Homo sapiens: one gene and its partners. The protein of the gene in region 1 interacts with the protein of each later gene in a pairwise test. Each region holds a gene or a part of one and is shown on either strand. Other genes may lie near its edges.

Region 1 (7,026 bases):
TTTTTTTTTTTTTTTTTTGAGATGGAGTCTCGCACTGTCGCCCAGGCTGGAGTGCAATGGTGCCATCTCAGCTCACTGCAACCTCTCCCTCCCGGGTTCAAATGATGCTCTCATCTCAGCCTCCCAAGTAGCTGGGATTACAGGCGCATGCCGCCACGCCTGGCTAATTTTTTGTATTTTAGTAGAGATGGGGTTTCACCGTGTTGCCCAGGCTGGTCTCGAACTCCTCAGCGCAAGCAATCCACCCGCCTCAGCCTCCAAAGTGCTAGGATTACAGGCGTGAACCATCATGCCTGGCCTCAGGTAGTTCTTTATAGCAGTGTGAGAATGGACTAATGCAGGCCTTTATGGTAAGCGGAAAAATGCCCTCCAAAAGATATTAACATCCTAATCCCCAGAACCTGTGAATATTTTACCCTAGCATGGCAAAGGGGATTTTGTAGATTTGATTAAGATTAGACCTTGAGATGGGGAGATTAGCATGTATTATCCAGGTAAGCCCAATCTAATCACATGAGTCCTTAAAAGTGGAAAACCTTTCCTAAAACAGAGAGACTTGGGATGGCCCAACAAGAAAGATGAGACACAAGAAGGACGTGACCCACTGTTGTTGGTTGTGAAGATGGAGGAAGGGGGCCATGGGCCAAGGGATGTGGGTAGGTGGGTGGACTCTAGAAGTCGGGAAAAGCTCTCAGATGATAGCCAGGAAGGAAACGGGGTCTCAGCCCTACAGTTTCATGGAAGTATATTCTGCCAACAACCTGAATGAGCCAGGTAGCTGAATGAGCTAGAAGGGAACCCAGTCCTGTTGAAACCTGGATTTCATCCCAGTGACACGTTAGACTTCTGAACTATAGAACCGTAAGATAAATTCATGTTGTTTCAGTTGCTAAGTTTCTGGTAGTTTGTTATGCTAGCAACAGAAAACTTATATATATATATATATATATATATATATATATATATGTACACACACACATATATACATATAGACATATATACATATAGACATATAGACATATATATACATATATACATATATAGACATATATATATATCTTTATTCTCTCATTTACATTAAAAAAACTAAAAAATATATATATATAAGTGCCCTTAAATCCTGTTTTGAAACAAGGAGGAATAAATTGGTCAATGCATGCAGCCTACCCAGCAGAACCTACCTAGCACACATTCATTATTTACTGAAGCACTAACTCTAACTCTGTACCAGGCACCATCCTTCCTTTAAGGAGCTGGCTACAGCATGCTGCTATCAATATTCATTTTCTCCCTTAGATTTGGCTAAAAACACAGTGACTCTCAGCTATACCTGAAAATGAGAATATTTTAAAGTGAGAACTGGGAGAAACCTAAAGCTACATTATGGCTATGAAAAGTAAAAACTCAGAAGATATGGGGAAAGAAAGAGCAAAGGGGAATGGAGCCAGACCACCCTGTAATCAAGAGAATGGCCCGTGGAGTCAGACACCCCTAGATCTTTGTTCTACCACTGTATTCGTTCGTTTTCACACTGCTATAAAGATACTACCCGAGACTGGGTAATTTATAAAGAGGCTTAATTGACTCACAGTTCTGCATGGCTGGGGAGGCCTCAGAAAACTTATAATCATGGCAGAAGGGGAAGCAGGCACATATTACGTGGCGGCAGGAGAAAAACAGAGTATGAATGAGGAACTGTCAAACACTTATAAAACCATCAGATCTCATGAGCACTCACTATCACCAGATCAGCATGGGGGAAACTGACCCCATGATCCAATCACCTTCCATGGGATCCCTCCCTCAACACGTGGGGACTACAGAAATTAAAATTTGAGATGAGATTCGAGTGGGACACAGAGCCAAACCAGATCAACCATCTACTAAGATAATTTGCCCCAAATGACACAACTCAGTTTCTCCATCTGTAAAACAGTAATCTCATGTATCTGTTGAAGAATTAACAGATAATAAGCTTTTGATATGGTGTAGGAACTATAAAAAGTGTGGAGGATTACTCATGAGAATCTGCTATACAGACCACAATGCCAAAAGCTAATGTGATGGAGAATTCCATACAAATTCAGTCTGGCTACACCTTAGGGATTAAATAAAATCCCCCAAAGCAGAAAACTTGGCAGCAGAAAAAGAAGAATCAATTTTAGAAAAATAAGCAAAAAAGGCCCATGGCTTACCAGCAGTGGAATGTTACAGTACTACCATCAATACAAACAATACTTTTTAAAAATACTGATGTCTGGGACTCCCCGGAGAGTGACTAAAACAGCATTTCCATGGATGAGAACCAAATATTAATAGTTTGAGTTAAGAAACACTGCAGAAATTAAAAGGGGGCTACTATGTGTGCATTACAGGAGAGAGAATCTAGAACCTTTTTGCCAGGGATCTCTTACTTACAAGTGAAAAGTAACAGCTAAAACTAGAGTATTTTAAAACTTGCAAATAATCAAGGCTAATGAAATCAAATGGGACAGTTTCTTTTAGAAAATGTAAAGTTAGGAGAGGGACAAGAGAGGTCTGCATATGGCTGCATCTTTTGTAGCAAAGGACACAGCCTCATAGACTAAAGTGAGCAGAGAATAACAAATGAAGTAAGCACAGCTGGGCCAGAAGGAAAGGGAAAAACAGCTGAGATGGCAAAATTAGGGTCTGCTCAAATAAAACATCAAACTGACTGGCTACTGCAAGAGGAGGAGAGCTGAAGAATTAAAATGAAGGAGGGAAGCAGTTGGGGAGATAAAAGAGAAACTTTCATGCTGGACAGGAATGGCATGGGACAGAAAGGACAGAACACCAATTGAGAAGATGAGTAGGGAGAGTCACCAGAGGAGTTTAAGAAAGGTAAAAAGGAATGAGAACAACAGGGACAATAGCCTCTATGATTCACTATAAAGTCTCAGGCACGGTATAAATATTAGGGGGAGGAAGTAGTAAATAAACTGGGTTAGAAAACAGACAGAAAAGAGCTAGTCAAAAATCCTGAAAGACTACCAATAATATATATAAAGCAAAAATTTGGAGGCCGAGGCAGGCGGATCACGAGGTCAGGAGATCGAGACTATCCTGGCTAACATGGTGAAACCCCGTCTCTACTAAAAACACAAAAAATTAGCCAGGCATGGTCATGGGCGCCTGTAGTCCCAGCTACTTGGGAGGCTGAGGCAGGAGAATGGTGTGAACCCGGGAGACGGAGCTTGCAGTGAGCCGAGATCGCGCCACTGCACTCTAGCCTGGGCGACAAAGCGAGACTTGTCTCAAAAAAAAAAAAAAAAATGAAGGTTAACAAAAGTATATCATCTAAATTGTAAATGATGTTAAAAGATATGTTTCAGCTCTCATTTGATAAATGAAACAGCTAAGCACATCTAAAAATGGGCAAAACTAAATAATACAGTTTAGGAATCCATAAGTGATACAACTATGAAGAAAAGCAGGGGAGGATTAATATAAAATTCAGGCCAGTGGAAAACTGGTTGAGAAAGAGACATATGTAAGAATGTGGAGTCCTTGGCCGGGCGTGGTGGCTCATGCCTGTAATCCCAGCATTTTGGGAGGCAGAGGCGGGCGGATCACGAGGTCAGGAGATCAAGACAATCCTGGCTAACACAGTGAAAGCCCGTCTTCACTAAAAATACAAAAAATTAGCCGGGCGTGGTGGCGGGCGCCTGTAGTCCCAGCTATTCGGGAGGCTGAGGCAGGAGAATGGCGTGAATCCAGGAGGCAGAAGTTGCAGTGAGCTGAGATTGCGCCACTGCACTCCAGCCTGGGTGACAGCGAGACTGTCTCAAGAAAAAAAAAAAAAGAAAAAGAATGTGGAGTCCTTTTGCATGGGTGTTTATCATTATTCTTTAAAACTATTAAACTGTGTATATGTATTTTATATATTCTTTTATATGCATGCTACATCTCAATAAAAAAGCTTTAATAGAATTTTTCTACCTCTGAACTTCCCAGGTTGTTTTTTGAAGGTAATTCTAACAAATCTGCTTATATAATAAAATAAAATGACTAGTACTTCTGGCCGCAGGTTTTGCAACATTCAGCTCCACCTCAAATCTAGTCAATCAAAATCTCTAGGGGTTGGGCTGCTGAATATTTTTTTTTTTAAACAAACACTCCAGTGATTCACAAGAATCTAAAGAAACTCAAATTTGAGTCTCCCACAGGAAGAGGTCTTCCTTCTGTTTTTCTCTAGAGCTATTGAGAATCTAATCCCCTTCCTTCCCCAATCCTTCCCCAAATCCTCTACAACTTTGCTCCTTACCTCCCCTTCTCTTGTATTTAACCTTTCAACCTCAAGTCTCTCCTATCTTAAAATACAAACACACACTCACATTTATTCTTCAATAAAATAACCCATGCATGGTTCTACTTGTAACTTCCCAATAACTCTTTTTGTAAAACCACCAATACTATGTGTGATATTGTTTAAATTTTTTTTTAAAAAAGAAAGTAGGAGGACCCTACAATATAAAAAGCCCCATTTCACCAACACCAACTCTTTCAGTGTAATCAATATAAGCATATAATTCTACTCTCCTCCCCAGAAGTAACGGTTAAGTGTGTAGTCTTGGGACTTTTTTTATTTACACATATATAAAAATCCACAGTTTTTTAACAACATAAATGAAAATACACCTTAGTTCTCCCCCTCACTGACATCTGAATCAAACACTGTGTCAAAGCACTAATGTCTTCCTACCATTTCAACCAATAGTCCCTGACCTCTACTGCACATGACACTGGTAACCACTCCCTCTCTGGGATCTGCCTTCTCTGCAGATTCCATGACACTGTACTGCCCAGGTCTCTCTTGCTCTTTTGATTATTCCTTGTTAGCCTACTATGCTGATAACTTTCCCCATGTGCCCCATGAACACTAGTATTTCCCACCATTACATCCAAGCTTTCATCTGTCAATTCATTCAATGAACAATCACCACCTACTTCATTCCAGGAGGACAACTTTGTCAGATCCCCATTTGTCAATGGTTTTGCATGTGAACCAATGCTCCAAATCACTTGCATCAAAGAAACAAATGCTGCCTTGCCGCGGTGGCTCACACCTGTAATCCCAGCACTTAAGGAGGCCGAGGTGAGTGGACCACCTGAGGTCAGGAGTTCGAGACCCAGTCAGACCAACATGGCAAAACTCCATCTCTACTAAAAATACAAAAATCAGCTGGGCGTGGGGGCAGACGCCTGTAATCCCAGCTACTGGGGAGGCTGAGGCAGGAGAATCGCTTGAACCTAAGAGGTGGAGGTTGCAGTGAACCCAGATGGCGCCACTGCACTCCAGCCTGGGTGACAAGAGCAAAACTCCATCTCAAAAAAAAGAAACAAATGCTTGCAATTTTAGCATGATACATAATTTCACTTTGCAACTAATTTGAACTATATTATGATCAGCAAGCCCCTACGCCAATCAGGAGGATGGGAATTAGAAGTAAGCTTGAGTAGTTAATTTTTTAAGGTGATAACTTATTAATAATTATTTTCATATCATGAGAATTTTTCTTCCCTACATAACCTTGTAATTTCAAAAGCTCAGAAAATGAACTCTCAGGTAATAGGGACTCCATTTTATGTTATTAGCTCCCAAGTCTCTATCCCAGATTACTCTCTCCTGAGCCAGAAATAAACTTTCAACTACATACCAGACATTCCCCCATGCCCACTCTGGCGGTGCCTACTCATCATTCTAATTTCAGCTGAAACATCACCTAGTGCCTCCCCTCAAGGATCCATCCACTTAACTATTAAATAAATCTGACACTCAATGGTGTACCCTGGCATCTAAGACAAAGGCAAAGACCTTCCTAACTAAAAAGATAATTTAAAATGCAAGTGGGGCTGAGAGCTGTGGCTTGTGCTTGTAATCTGGCACTTTGGGAGGCTGAAGTGGGAGGATGGCTTAAGCCCAGGAGTTTGAGACCAGCCTGAGCAACACAGTGAGAGCCCATCTCTACAAAAATTTAAAAATTAGCCAGGCATGGTGGCATGTGCCTGTGTTCCCAGCTACTTGGAAGACTTAGGTGGGAGGATTGCTTAGGCCCAGGAGACTGAAGCTGTAGTGAGTGAGCCGTGATAGTGCCACTGCACTCCTGCCTGGGCAACAGAGATCATGTCTCAATAGATAGATAAATAATATAAGTAAAATAAAATAAAATGGAAGTGGTGGGTATATACATAAGAGTGAAAAATAAAAAATAAAATGTAAGTGGGACTGGGACTGAAGAGAAGGGAAACAGAATGAGGGAAGAGAGGAGGGGACCAGCATAAAATGCAACAGGGAGTGGTAGGATTTGTTAAACTCTCAAAAGAATGGATAAAAAGGAGTTGGCCAGGTGACAAAAATTTTTGACATAACTTTTTTTGATAGGGAAGAACAAGAAGGAGTGCTTCAGATATTAGCAGAAATAAGAACACAACCAAACCTGTGCCTTTGTTTACCTTGCTGAGCGTTGAGCAGCAGGGAGGGTTAGTGATAAGGTTAAAATGGTTGGCAGATGCTAGAATTTCAGAAGAAAAATTACTATAGATTCGTATTTTTTCTCTCCATGCTTGATAATTAACTGCTTATTAAAAACCACTTTCCACTTTACATCTAGATTTAAATGACACATTTTACTAAATGATTCAGAAACAAGACAGGAACAAGGAAAAAATTTAAAGCTACATTTTAACTGCATTTAGTCTTACAGTAAGAAAACAGCTCAATAGTATCATCATGATCATGTAAAAGTTTTTAAAACCTCTTCTATTAAAGAGGGAATTCTGAAAAGGAAAAATGTGCATTGTTCCTTTCCTTTGAGAAATCAAAGTACTTTCACATTTATCCTCATTTTATCCCACATACTGAGAGAAGGTTATAGGTTACGGAAACAGGGAAACAGAAAAATTAGGTGATTTCCTTCATTCTAAGATGCATGTTTTTGACCCTGACTTTTTAAAAAATCAAAGTGGATCTCACATTACTGATTTTAAAGTCATCTTTTCTAGGGG
Region 2 (7,026 bases), on another chromosome or scaffold:
ACCTGTGTGTGTCCATCCCTGGATATTTTCAGGGGCTCTATTTTGGCTCCTGTGTCTGTCTAATAATACGAGGGTACTTAGGCCTATGTTAATTTTCCACATCACAGTATACAGTCATGTGCATAAAAGTTAAAGGCTTATTTTTCAGCTCCATACCAACTATTTTCATGAATGCTCCATATCAACTATTTTCATGTATATTCACTAGATTGCATATTCATATATGTTACACATATATTTTAATTTTACTTAATAAACTAATGATAATAGCTATTATTTATTGAAGAACATGATATAGGACAACACATACATGCACACATACAACCCACAGTGAACTGGTTAATATTAGTGACCGTCATCACTGGAGTTTGGAACGTGGAGACCTGGTATAAGTCCCCAGGAGCAGTGGAGTGTATTTGCCTATTTTGTGAATCTAGCTAGAAGTTACATTAAAGTGTCCTTTCTCTATTCATGTATATGTTGAAAATGTAATTACCCTCAAAAGGTTTTACTTCTAAGACTTTGATCTATTAAATAAGTACTTTCACGCCTCATGCAATGATTTAGTGTGTTTTCCCTTAAATCTCTTCATAAATAATTCCTAGAATGGCTAGTTAAGTCTTCTTCTTGCTAACATAATGCACTTGCTAAAGAAATCCTTATTTCTGGCTAGGCGTGGTGGCTCACGACTGTAATCCCAGCACTTTGGGAGGCCGAGGCAGGCAGATCACAAGGTCAAGAGATGGAGACCATCCTGGCCAACATGGTGAAAACCCGTCTCTACTAAAAATACAAAAATTAGCTGGATGTGGTGGTGCGCACCTGTAATCCCAGCTACTCGGGAGGCTGAGGCAGGAGAATCGCTTGAACCTGGGAGGCGGAGGTTGCAGTGAGTTGAGATCGTGACACTGTACTCCAACCTGGTGACAGAGCGAGACTCTGTCTCAAAAAAAAAAAAAAATCCTTATTTCTTAAGATGACCGTAGAACAATGGAATTGGTTGACTTGAAATTTGAATCTTTGGCCAGGTATGGTGGCTCATGCCTGTAATCGTAGCACTTTAGGAGGCTGAGGCAGGAGGACTGCTTGAGCTCAGGAGTTTGAGACCAGCCTGGGCAACGTGGCCAGGCCTGGTCTCTGCAATTAATTAAAAAATTAGCTGGATGTGGTGGCACGCACCTGTGGTCCCAACTCCAGGGGAGACTGAGGCAGGAGGGTCACGTGAGCCCAGGAGTTTGGGGCTGCAGTGAGTCATGATCATGCCATTGCACTCCAGTCTGGGTGACAGAGTGAGATCCCGTCTCAACAAAACAAAAAACAAAAACAAACAAAAAGAAACCTGAATCTTCTAGTGGCTTAGAGGGTGTGGGTGTGTATGTGTGTATCTGAATGGTACCTATATATAAAACTGGGAAAATAAGAATTTAAAGTAACATTTACTTACTTTATTAGAACTTTTGCTTGGTCCTGAGCTGGTTTTTCCTCTTCTTGTCCATGAAGAATTAATTCTGCTACTTTATGAAGCTGCTCAATACAGCGCGCTGTTACCTCCGCCAGACTTTCAATGGACGACATGTATACTTCCTGAAATGAATAGACACAAGCAAGAAATTTTTTACTGAGCAGATGCTTTTTTAAAAAAATGCTGTGACATTAGAAGTGATATAATTCTTTCAAAAATACCCCAAATATAACCCGAAATAGTTAACCTGATGATTACAAGCATATCTAAGACTTTAAGTGTAATGTTGCCAGGAAGGGCTGTAAAGCCCCCACGGATGTGGCAGGTCTGTTCACAGCTGCATCCCCAGTGCTTACAGCAATGCTGGGTACAAAACAGGCAGGTGCTAAAGAAGGTGTGTGGAAGGCCGGCTGAATGAACAGAGCTCAATGGATATTTTTCCTTACAGTGATCTAATCACTGCAACCTCCACCGCCCAGGTTTAAGCAATTCTCATACCTCAGCCTCCCAAGTAGCTGAGAGTACAGGCACACGCCACCACGCCCTGCTAATTATTATTATTATTATTTTGTATTTTTACTAGAGACAGGGTTTCACCATGTTGGCCAGGCTGGTCTCAAACTTATATTTCTATAACACGGAACAAATGAAAAAGAAATGGCCTCTCCTCAATTAAAATTAAGCTGCTAATAAAATGAACACACTCTTATTACCTTGTAGGCAGACAATCTAGAATGAATTTACCTCTATGGTCTTAGTTTTCTTTTCCTCCTTTTTGTCTTCTTGAGGGTCTTGAGATTTCTCTTCCTTTTCTTCCTTCTTTGTTTCTTCTTCGGACACTTTTGCCACATCTACTGACACCACGGTTTGATCCTCTTCCACCCAGTCATGAGCCCTCTTCATGGCCTGCAGAGGTCCCCAACCAAACAATCCTTTTATGGCGCAAATATGGAAACTAAGTCATTCCAACCCCAAGACTAGAATCAAGTGTCTCTAAGCCTTCAAGAATGGATCTCTGTATGTTTGGAGGATGACGGGGCAATTTTTCAACCCCCGAAAAAGATAACCTTGTTGTTGCTTTCTGGTAAATATAAAGTAGAAAAGAGGGACAGAACAGAAGGTATGGAAAGAACAATGCAAGCCTGAGGACTCTTCAAAAAGCATTTAAAAATGATATTCAGATAAGAATAAAAATGACAGTCACATTGAAAAATCTATGGTATATTTTTCACTTTTCATGACCATCTATAAAAGAATAATAGTATTTTTAAAAATATGTGTTAGAAATTGAGCCATGGGGCCGCGGCTACAGCAAATGTCCTCATCTGATATATTTCAGGAAGCTCTTCATGTTTCATGAACCTAACAATGTATCATGCTGGGAAGGTGAAGAAGGGCTCTGCGTTTCTTGATTCATGACAGGTCTTCCACCCTCAAGGGGGAGAAGAGAAGCGCTGCTGGAAAGGTCTGGTGCTGCTCTGTGTCTAGTTTAATTTCACATGAGTGCAGTTTACGCACTCTGTGCCCTGCAAAATCATGGCTAAATTAAACAATCAGAAACCTCCTCCCCTGCCTGTTATTCCCTGAATTTAGAACGAAGGGGCAGACTCACTCCAATTTTATCATTATAGTTTAAGCTGTTTGCTTAAGTAAAAGTTGTTTTGGGGCTTACACTAAACTTACTTCCCACGTTAAATCTTACACGCCAAAGTTAAAAATATCAGAGTGTTGAATGGTAAGTTAACAGCAAGAAGATCTGGGGAGAGAAAACCCAGCAAAACTGTCCTCAGTGTGTCCTCTATTACAGACAAAGATTTAACCCTAAGCAAATAAGCCAGTGGAATCTCAGAGCCACCACATGCCCCCTCTGAGCAGTGGCAGATGCTGCACGGAGATGAATGAGGCAACTTCCCACTGTGTTCAAGTCACTGACCTGCCAGAATCAGTGACCCCCATCAGAGATAAAGAAATTACTCATCTCACCTCCTCATTCTGCCCTTTTCCTCACCCACCTGGATAAGTGAGTACCTATGTAAACCACTGCTTGCTAAAAAGAAGAAAGAAAGAGAGAGAGAGAGAATGGAAAAACATCATGCAGTTTTAAGTAATTAATGATCATGGCCTCTAAAGAAACTTCACAGCAAGACCTTGTACTAACTTGCAAAACACACTGTGGTATTATTAGAGGAACCCAGATTGTTAAAGCTGGAATGGTCTTAGACATGATGCAGCCCCTGTGCTCCAGGTGGGAGGAACTGTGGGGTTTACCTGGCTGACGTGCCTCTCTCTACCTAATTCTGGCATGTTTCTTTAGAAGGGGGGCGGGGTGAAATTTGAAAAAAGCCTCTTGGTGATTCTGCACCCTTTTTCCCTGCCCTAACCTGATGATAACTACTGCTCCGACATAACATTCTATTTTGCCATGAAAAGGTAAGTGACTTATTCAAGGTTACAAGGTAATTACTAGTAAAATTACAACTAAAATGCAGATCTCATGACACAGTCTAGCATGTTCTCCACCACCACATTCCATTATGTTGCCTCCTCAAATCTTTTCGTTTTTTCCTTTTTTTAAAATTTGAGAGAGAGTCTCACTCTGTCACCTAGGCTGGAGTGCTGTGGCACAATCTCAGCTCCCTGCAACCTTGGCCTCCTGGGTTCAAGCGATTCTCTTGCCTCAGTCTCCCGAGTAGCTGGGATTACAGGCATGCGCCACCGCACTTGGCTAATTTTTGTATTTTAGTAGAGATGGAATTTCACCATGTTGGCCAGGCTGGTCTCAAACTCCTGACCTCAGGTGATCCACCCGCCTTGGCCTCCCAAAGTGCTGGGATTATAGGCGTGAGCCACGTGCCCAGCCCCTCCTCAAATCTTAATTACTGACCTCAAACTCCTCTCCCGGCACTATGCCACATAAGATTTGGGGGTTTTCCATTTCAGGTGCATCTCTGGAACTTTACAACAGAGACTCTCCCCTGCACTGTTTTTTTTTAACCAGAAACTATAAATCAGACAGTGCTGACCTTATTGAGTTTGTCAGGTGTGGCCGCCACATGTAATTCAAAGAGAAGCTCTGTAAGCATGCGAGCAAATTCTTCTCCCTTTTCTTCTAAGCCTAGAAATAGAACACGACAGAAGAAGCGTGATTTATTTTTCATCCTTCAGGATGTGGCAGCTCCCCCAACATTACAGCCTGCAGCTGGGGTAGACTAAGTGGAGGTTGTAGCAGCCTGCCCGCCAGCCGCTGGGCAAAGATGAATGTCTTCCATTCGTGAGCATGGCAGTGAGGCAGCAGATGCATCCGGGTGCAGGGCCGCTGAAGTCTTGCTGTTTGGCAGCTCCAGCAGGGACACCCCCAGGACAACCCAAAGGCAACAAGAGGTCAGGGAGGGACCTCGCTTGTCTTGTTCACAGCTGTAGGTGGTCAGCAGCTATTTGCTGAAAGAAGGACTGGGATGAACAAAGGCATGACCTTTCTCAGGCCTAAGAGACCTGGGACAACATCATATTTATGACTTCGATATTGTTATGCTTAGCATTGCAACCCTAATGGTACCCAGGTGCCCTTTTATGTCCACAGAGCCACAGTGCTGAATAAACCGAATTAGTCTCAACCATCTCTCTGGAGAAATTTCCCAAGGTTCCCTAGGATACCTGGCTGGTCCTACAATATTTCTTAATGATCTGTCTTCCTTTCACCCTGGAAGCTACTGAGGGACAGAGACAGTATTTCTTCTGCTCACTCTTGAATCCTAGAGTATCTAACACAATACCTCACATATCATAGGTGCTAAAATGAATATTTACAGAATGATTTATTAATACATTGCCTAATATATAATATGATATATTAATATATATAACAGACAGTATACGTATTAAAATATCAAATATCATAAAATAAAAAAATTAGGATCATTGTGGGCAATAAAGAGATTGTTAAAGATTACAATCTTATTTTTCTCTTTTAAAGTATCTGCAAGGCCATGCCATTTTTAACAGTTCTGAAAGGTGCCAAAGAATGGATTCCACATGGATTTATTACCAGTTTGGGGGAGAATAAAGGCATCATTTATCTCACCTGACTACATGATCTCAGAACTCTCTAAGAAGAAAATACTGTGGCTTATGCCAGTGGGGGAAGGCAGAGCCTTGAAGAGGGGACTAAGCCATGTGAGAAACACTGCATCCAGCCCTTGTCTGGAGATGCTATTTTCTGTTTTATGGACAAAATGGTTGATCTGCAGCCCACGAAGATAGCCTGGCATAGCTTGTAGGTATTTATTCAAAACATTTAGCTTAGATCCGCTTATTATTACCTATAACTCATCTATTCTCATGAGGGAAACAGATCAATAATCAAAACAGATAAGTAGTCCAGGCACGGTGGCTCACGCCTGTAATCCCAGCACTTTGGGAGGCCGAGATGGGTGGATCATGAGGTCAGGAGTTTGAGACCAGCCTGGCCAAGATGGTGAAACCCCGTCTCTACTAAAAATACAAAAATTAACCGGGCGCGGAGGCGGGCGCCTGTAATCCCAGCTACTTGGGAGGCTGAGGCAGGAGAATCACTTGAACCTGGGAGGCAGAGGTTGCAGTGAGCGGAGATCATGCCACTGCACTCTAGCCTGGGTGACAGAGCAAGACTCTGTCTCAAAAAACAAAACAAAATAAAACAAAACAGATAAGTAAATAACATCAACGTCAAGGGATACGTTTTATGGAGAAGTATAAACAGGGCTAGCTGGGGTTTAGGAGTTTTAAACAGGAGGTGCTGTGGTCTGAATGCCCCTGTCCTCTCCAAATTAATATTTTGAAACCTAATACCAATGTGATGACAATAGGAGGTGAGGCTTTGGGGGTGTGATTAGATCATGAAGTGGGGAGCCCCCCATGAACCGGATTAGTGCCCTAAAAAAAGAGGCCCCAGGGAGCTAGCTGGTCCCTTCCACCATGTAAGGACACAGCTAGAAGACACCAGCTGTGAACCAGAGATCAGGAGACCTCATTAGACACAGAATCTGCCAGCACTTTGAGCTTCGACTTTACGGTCTCCAAAGCTGTGAGAAATAGATTTCTGTTGTTTATAAGCCACATAGTCTATGGTATTTTGATATAGCAGCCTGAAGGGACTAAGACAGGAGGGAAGCTAACTAAGAAGGTGACAATTGAGTAATGTGCTAGAGGAGGAGAGCAATGAGCCAGCTACAAGATGTCAGGGGGGAAGAGCCTTCCAGCTGCAGTGTAGCAAGAGTAGAGTCCAGGAGGGAGTATGCCTGGTTCATCCATGGGAGCAGCAAGGACGTCAGCGTGGCTGCAGCAGAGTGAGGCAGGTGTGCGCAGGGAGGAGGCAGAGACGGCTGTCTTTGCTCATGACGAAGCCACAACAAGCAAATCGTTTTAACCCAAAGAGGTAAGTGCTCTAAGGGGGCTTTTGCAGCATATAATCCAGTTCTCAGAGGGGTGTGAAGCAGGGTTCCTGGAGGAGGTGATGCCTGAACAGAGCCTTCAAGAAAGAGAATGCATTAATCACACAAAGGGAGAGCTGGAGGGCTAGACAGTCT
Region 3 (7,026 bases), on another chromosome or scaffold:
CGGCAGAACTTTGGAAGCCTAAGGGGAGTGTGACATATTCTGAGGACATCCTCTGCAGGGGCGGGGAAAGGGAGAAGCAATTGATTTTGTAGCATGGGAATGGGTGGGAATGGGGAAGCTCCCCTCGTCTCTGGGAGAACTGGCCTCAGCCTCTTCCTACCCACCCCTTTCTGGAGCACCCATCCCAGCCCTCACAGGTCGCCTGGCTGATTGCTTGCTGAAAAGAGGGGGGCTCCCTCTCTACCAAGCCAGCTCTGTGCTAGGAAAGATGGGTGGTAGGCAGAGGAACCCTGAGAGGCTGAGGGCACTACGCTATCACCTCCAACAAAGGTGACCTCTCCATTCGTGGACCCTGAGACTCATGAGGGCAGGAACACATCTGTCTTATATCCCTGGCGCAGGTGAAGAGACGGAGCTCCGGGATAGTGAGAAACTTGCTCAAAACCACACAGTGAACCAGGGGCATATCTGGGGCGGGAGTTCATGTTGCCAGGCCCTGAGCCTGGCCCCTTCCTGGACACCATGCTGCAGCTATTTCTAGATTTCATGCCAAAGTACCAGGCCCTGCCGGCTGGGGCCCTCAGGCCTCCTGGGAAGACTGAGCCCTGGGGCCCTTCGCATGGCAGCCCTCAACCCCTCGCCTGACCCACAGCTGCTGCCCCTGCCCCAGGAAGGACCCGGTACCTCCATCCTGTTTCTGTTAAGTCAGGAGTCAGAAGCACCAGGCCCAGAGGCTGGTCTTCCCAATCAGCAGAGAGAAAGGAAGAGACCTCTGTCTGGCATTTGCCAGCCTGACCCCCGGAGTAGGAATGGGCTCAGAGATCCATTCAGGGTGCCCAGGAGGCAATCAGATAATCAGACCTTCCTATTAGCAAATCCTCTTCCTCCTCACAGCCTGGAGCCACCTGCCCTGGGCCAGCCCCTTTTCTTGCCAGCACCTGTCTGGCCTCCTTCTGCCCTCCCTGATCTGCCCCCGATGGAAGGGAACTGCCCTGGGTGCAAGTCCCCTAATGCCAACACTGCCGTTCGAACCCCTGTGGTGGGTGGCAGGCGGGCCCGGGAGGGAGGGTGGGGATGAGGTGGGTCAGGGAGAGGGAGGGATAAGAACCTTTCATCGGATTGGGAGCTGTGAGGTTCCGCGAGCAGATCATTGAGAGCATCGCGTGCAGTTTATCCTCCTCTTCCTCATCATCGTCCACCGAGGCCGCGCGGCTGGCCGCTAGGTGGTGGTAGTTAATAGTGACTGCTCAAAGAGAACAGCGAGAGGCAGAGGCATGAGGCCCTCATCCCTGGGCAGGACGGACTCCCTCCTTAAGGGGAGTGGAATGGAGGCCGGGGTCATCGTGAATCTGCAGGGCACAGAAGAGGGGAAGGGAGGGGACCAGAAAGCTCTTTGGATGATTTTCCTGGGAGAGTGTGGAAGGAGGCGAGGGGCTGGGGCAGCTGCAGAACCTCACTCTTCGGAGGCAGCCTCTCTAGGAAGAACAGAAGAGAGAGAACAGAGGTGGGAGGATGTGAAAGACCGGGACTGTCTGGGATGGGCTGGCAGCCCAGGAGGTCATCGGCCCTCACAGAGGCTGCGCATGACAGCTGGCAGATGGGTCCTGATCGTTCTCTAGCTCCTCTCAGGCTGGACCAAATCTGAAGATTACTCCAAATCCCCTTTTTCAGACTATAAATTCCACCTTCTTCCCTCCCAGGAAAAGGAAAGGGTTTTCCCAGAGCTGTCCTCAAGGAGCTGGAGTCGCTTGGTGGAGTTTCAGCCTCTGGGTGCCCTGGCTTGCCCTTGGCGAGGTGGTCCTGGAAGTGAAGTGACCAGGACTGGGAAATGGCAAAGATCGAAGAGGGGAGGCAGAGACTGGAGAAGCTAAACCAAGCAACAGCCTGAGACTAAGTGCCAAGTGTGTAAATACATTCTGGCCAAAGATGCGTCTCTTTGTCAGGTACATCTGGGAAGGGGGGACATCCCTGTGCCGTGTGCCCTCTGAGCCTGGTGGAGCTATCTGTGCTGTGGCTGAGTGTGCCGTCTGGGCAGTCCGGTCCCTAATACAGAGACAACTTGTTGACAACTTTTTGGCACAAGTTGGAAATTTAGGGAGCGGGTGGTCTTGTTAGCAATAAACGCTCTGGGCTGGCAAATTCCCCGACCTTATCTGTAAGAAAAGCAAGTCTGCCCAGAGAAGCCTATGGGCAGCAGCAGCACTCTGACCAGAAAGGGAACTTTGGTGTTGGTAGATGCACATAGACAGAGAGACCCCCTTGGGCCCAGGGGTGTGTGTCCAGGGTGGGGCAGGACCCACAAGGGCCAAGCCGCCTTTCTACCCGCCAGTGCCCAAAGCCCCCAGGCAGCCCCGAGTCTGCCTCTGATGCAACCTGCTACTTCAGCTAACGCTCATCAGTAGTTGGTTTGAGGAGGGCTCTGGCTCTAGGGGAGTCAGCAGACAATATTCACCATCCAAAAAGAAGCGCTGGGCCGGGCGCAGTGGTCACGCCTGTAACCCTAGCACTTTGGGAGGCTGAGGCAGGCAGATCACAAGGTCAGGAGTTTGAGACCAGCCTGGCCAATATGGTGAAACCCCATCTCTACTAAAAATACAAAAATTAGCCGGGCATGGAGGTGTGCGCCTGTAATCCCAGCTACTCAGGAGGCTGAGGTAGGAGGATCGCTTGAACCCAGGGGCAGAGGTTGCAGTGAGCTGAGATCACGCCATTAAACTCCAGCCTGGGTAAAAGAGCGAGACGTCGTCTCAAAAAAAAAAAAAAAAAAAAAGTAGCGCTGGTCCCATACCCAGGCTGTCTTGTAGGGGTTGGGGAGCAGGAGGTGAAGAGCAATGGAGGGTTCCCCACCTTCTACTTCTCGTTTCTCCACGTGTTTTACCCCTGGACAGGGTCTGAAAGGATAACTAAGAGTCTTGTGTAGTGACGCCTAGGTCTGCTGAGCCAAGAGTCCTGGCGTGGAGAAGTGGGGAAGGGAGCTGGGTAGAAGAGACGCACCTTTTCAAAGGCAATATCTGTGGGTAAAAGGTCCAGCTGAGAGGCTAGGCGATGAGCCTCTGGTGTTAACCTGGCCTGGTCAGTGGGCCCTGCCTGCTGCCCTCCTGGGTGACGCTGCGCTCCCCGCCTCCCAGAGCGTCTTCCTCTCCTCCCCCGGGATGAAGCTCGGGACACTCACTGTGCTCGTGCCTGTGGCCGGGGTAGATGATCCGGAACACATAGTCGGTGGCCCGCCCCGTGCCCATCTCCTCCATATCCACGGAGCGAATGCTGCTTCGTTTCCGTAGCTTGGGGAACACTTTCCCCTGTGGAAGGAGGGGTAGGTGGTCGGGCTGTATAGGGCAGAGTCTCATCCAGGGTTCCACACAAGGCCGCTCCTAAGAACTCCACGTGGGGAAGGAAGGGAGGCGGGCAGAGAACCCCACACACAGCCCTTCCCCTAAAGCCTCCCACCCGAGTTACCTTCCCTTGCTGGGTCCACAGCGGGGGCTCTAGCTGTCCCCGAGGCAGCAGCCCATTCTCCAGACAGGACAGAAAGGACAGCAGGTGTCCTCCCTGTGGGAAATGCAGCGGCGGCCTCTGGATGCCATCCTGGCTCACCAGCACAAGCGTGCCACCGCTCTCTGGGGGTGAACGTGGAGAGTGCGGCTGAGGCCCTCTCGTCGGCTATCACACCCTGCTGGCCAGTGCCCCCAGGCTGGGTAGGAGGCAGATGGCTGGGCTACAGCATGGCCTGGGAGCCCCATTAACAAGGATGGGAGGAGGACGAGGAGTCTTACAGGCCCCACGCACAGTGCACAGCTGGCAGAAGGCAGCCTCTCCCTTCCCACCCGAGCCGAGGACAAGGCAGGCTTACTTTGCTGGTGGCAGTGGATGCACACGACCTGGCTGAAGGGCACCACGAGGGCATAGTCCCAGTAAACGCTAGAAAGGAACCAGACTGCTGTCACTGTGTCCAAAGACCTGCCATCCTTCCTTCCTTCCTTGTCTCCTGGTCCTACCACCCCACGAAACTCCCCTGAAGATAGGATGACCATAGCCAAGAGGTGCACACAGCCAGCCATGACCCCTGAGATCTGTGCTGCCCGCTCGGCACATGGACAGCTGTCCGTCTCAGCCGCTGAGAGCTTGGCTCAGACAAACCTCTTCACGGCCAGGCTTGGCTCCGTCCTAGAGAGCTTGGGAATCACTCCAGGCAGCCGCTCCCTGCTATTCTTGGCGTCCAAATAAAGAGTGAGGTTGGCCTCCTGGAGCAAGCGGGGTTTCTCCATCCCTCTGCCTGAGGTCAAACCCACTCCCTGCCCTGGCTCCTGGGATTGAGTCCCAAAGCCCCCACCTCTTTTCCAGCTCGGAGTCCCCCAGAGTCCCATTCATGAGCTGGTTGGGGGTCCACTTCAGAGTCAGGCTCTCTGCAGACTGGTGCAGGGAGAGGTAGCCAGGGACCGCCTCCATATCCTCCTTCTACAGCGGGAGACACCGGAAGACCGACGATGAAGGGCTGAGAGGCTCTCAGGGATGGCCTATGAGAAATGAGCTCCCGCTGGGAGGAGGGGAGGCCAAGCTAGGCTAGTCACGGGGTCCTGGACTAGGGACGGGGCAGAAGCACAGGAAAACAGGACTCAGTTTCCCTGGTCAGCCTGGTGCCACTGACTCTCTCCTGCCAGCCTCCTGGATGCCAGGTCCATTCCAGGCCAGCCATACCCACACTGCGGACTCCCCTCGCCTGCTGGCTGCCATTCCTGTCCCCTGCCAACTAAAGGCTGGGCGTGAGTCGTGTGAAACAGGGAGTTGGGAGGCTGGGGCCATTCTCCCCCCCGTCTCTGGTCAAGCTCCTCAGGAAAGGAATAGCCATGGCTAGAGGCTTCCAGTCGTCTCGTTCGGGGACCTTCGGGGAGGGATGGCAGGATGAAGCTTTCCTACCGGCTGCACCAGCACGTGGTTCTTGCCATAGAGCAGCCGCGTCCGTGAGTTCTGGTGCAGGGACTCCACACACTCGCGGGCACAGGCAGCCAGCCTGTCCTCCGACGCGCTGCCGCTTGAGTGCCGTTTCCGGATCTGTGTGGAAGGCCGGGGCTCAGCCTCCAGCCTTGGGAAACTGGCCTCAAGGCTTGGGAACCCTCACGCTTCCATGCTGACCCTCTCCAGCTGACCCCAGGGGTCCTTCCTGCCCCGGTTTACTCCCAGCCACCCTCTGCTCTCCAGCCACGGACCAGCATGGGCTCCCGGCATTTGTGTTAAGTTTTATTGTGCGGAGAAGGCTCTTCTGAGGCAGCCGCTACCTTGGGGCATCTCCAAGGCCTGTCCCGTAGAGAGGCCGGTTTCCCGTCCCTACAGGCCCATGGGCATAGCCCAGATGAGCCCAAAGGGTGGGGAGGGGGCACCTACCCCCAGGGCTGGGCGCTTTGCAGGGGAGTCCTGGCGAGTAGGTGGACCCCGGATGCGGTGCCGCTGGACCAGCTCATCAGCAGAGGGGTCAGTCCAGTAGTGATCGGCTGTCTTGAGCTTAGTGTATTCCAAGGCACAGGGTCCCACTGTGGAGACAGAGACAGCCAGCCCAGACGATGCTCCCTCAGCACCTGCCCCGTACCCACTGTGCCTGTGCTCTCAGGCTCACCTAGAAGAGAGGCCAGGATCGGGCCGAACACAGGGTCTGCCAGCAGTGCCTCCTTCTCGTAGTACTTGCTGCCAGGAGACAGACAGTGTGACTGCCGAGGCTCCGGGGCTCATTCCAGGGCAGTCAAGCTCACCAGGTAGGGACATCCCCACAAAGACCAGATTCAGATCAGTCATCAAGAAACAGTGAGTCCTTAGGGACTGGGCTTCGTGAGGTGCCTGGTATGGCCAATGCCTTGAGGGCACCGAAGGGGACGGGGAGATGGAGGGTTGCCTACAGGCTGTCACGGACAGGCAAGCATCCTGAGGGCTGGGGCTGAGGGACGTCGGGAGACGGGTCAAGGGAGGGGCTGCTTGGGGAACGAGGCGGTCACCTGCAGTTTTTGGGGAACGGGGCGGTCACCTGCAGTTTTTGGGGAACGGGGCGGTCACCTGCAGTTTTTGGGGAACGGGGCGGTCACCTGCAGTTTTTGGGAACGGGGCGGTCACCTGCAGTTTTGGGGGGAACGGGGCGGTCACCTGCAGTTTTTGGGGAACGGGGCGGTCACCTGCAGTTTTTGGGGAACGGGGCGGTCACCTGCAGTTTTGGGGGGAACGGGGTGGTCACCTGCAGTTTTTGGGGAACGGGGCGGTCACCTGCAGTTTTCCGCCAGGTATTGCACGACCTTGTCCAGAACTTTCTCGATGAGCGCCGTGCGTACCCATACGTGTTTCAAGGCCTGAGGGCTGAGGGCCGGGGCCTTCCCGCTGGCTGAGCCCTGTCTCCGCAGGGCCTCCTGGCTGACCCCTGAGGGTTTCCTGCAAAGGCGGGGAGGGCTCCAGGAGTGCAGTGGTCTAGGGGTAAACCCCAGAATGCTGGCATTGGGAGTGGGGCTTGGTACCCCAAGATGGGAGCACAGAGAACTGACTGGGGTTGGGAGGTGAAGGAGGGGTACAGAGCCTTGTGCCCACAAGGAACCAATCCCCTCCCTCAAGCTGATCCCTCACCCAGAGGCCCTGCAAGGAACAGGCCCAGGATGCCAACTTTCCGATGGGTGTCCTAGGAAGTAGCAATTGCCAAGTGGGAAGAGCTGAAAGGAGGGAAGAAGGGGCTGGCCCAGGGCTCACCTGCCCTCTGCTTGTTGCTGCAGCTCCTGTACCTTGTGGCAAATCTCCCCCGCCACTGGGCACGTCTTCCCCACCTTGGTGAACAGGGCTGCCATCTTGTCACTGCGCAGGAAGCCAGCGGCACGGCGTCTCAGCTGATGCAAGAGGCAAGCCTCCACTGCACCTAGGCCACAAAGGGAAACGGCATCTGAGCCTGGGAAAGACGGGGGAGCAGGAAGAAAAGCTCCTCTTCCCCATACCTGTGGTGAGGCAAGGGGTAAGGGCAAGCCAAGGGCAGGCCAGGGAGATACCCTGGCTTCCTTCCAAAATTCC

The links.
Region 2: the proteins of RAB2A (region 1) and FAM114A1 interact in binary tests that used the Homo sapiens proteins (3 or more experiments, as listed by UniProt).
Region 3: the proteins of RAB2A (region 1) and SGSM2 interact in a two-hybrid assay, tested with the Homo sapiens proteins (one study listed by BioGRID).

Annotation. Positions count from the first base shown.
Region 1 is NC_000008.11:60,519,961-60,526,986, reverse strand, and holds part of RAB2A (ras-related protein Rab-2A), read right to left. Parts: intron 1-7,026.
Region 2 is NC_000004.12:38,926,793-38,933,818, reverse strand, and holds part of FAM114A1 (protein NOXP20), read right to left. Parts: intron 6,969-7,026; coding exon of another isoform or gene 6,643-6,968; exon of another isoform or gene 5,485-6,642; intron 4,578-5,484; coding exon 4,486-4,577; intron 2,369-4,485; coding exon 2,207-2,368; intron 1,585-2,206; coding exon 1,445-1,584; intron 1-1,444. UniProt on the Homo sapiens protein: May play a role in neuronal cell development.
Region 3 is NC_000017.11:2,361,488-2,368,513, reverse strand, and holds part of SGSM2 (small G protein signaling modulator 2), read right to left. Parts: intron 6,878-7,026; coding exon 6,715-6,877; intron 6,406-6,714; coding exon 6,244-6,405; intron 5,677-6,243; coding exon 5,609-5,676; coding exon of another isoform or gene 5,526-5,608; coding exon 5,380-5,525; intron 5,050-5,379; coding exon 4,915-5,049; intron 4,515-4,914; coding exon of another isoform or gene 4,456-4,514; coding exon 4,331-4,455; intron 3,919-4,330; coding exon 3,851-3,918; intron 3,618-3,850; coding exon 3,457-3,617; intron 3,300-3,456; coding exon 3,173-3,299; intron 3,012-3,172; coding exon of another isoform or gene 2,875-3,011; exon of another isoform or gene 2,848-2,874; intron 2,140-2,847; exon of another isoform or gene 1,701-2,139; intron 1,476-1,700; coding exon of another isoform or gene 1,454-1,475; exon of another isoform or gene 1,358-1,453; intron 1,350-1,357; coding exon of another isoform or gene 1,284-1,349; exon of another isoform or gene 1,250-1,283; intron 1,244-1,249; coding exon 1,109-1,243; intron 1-1,108.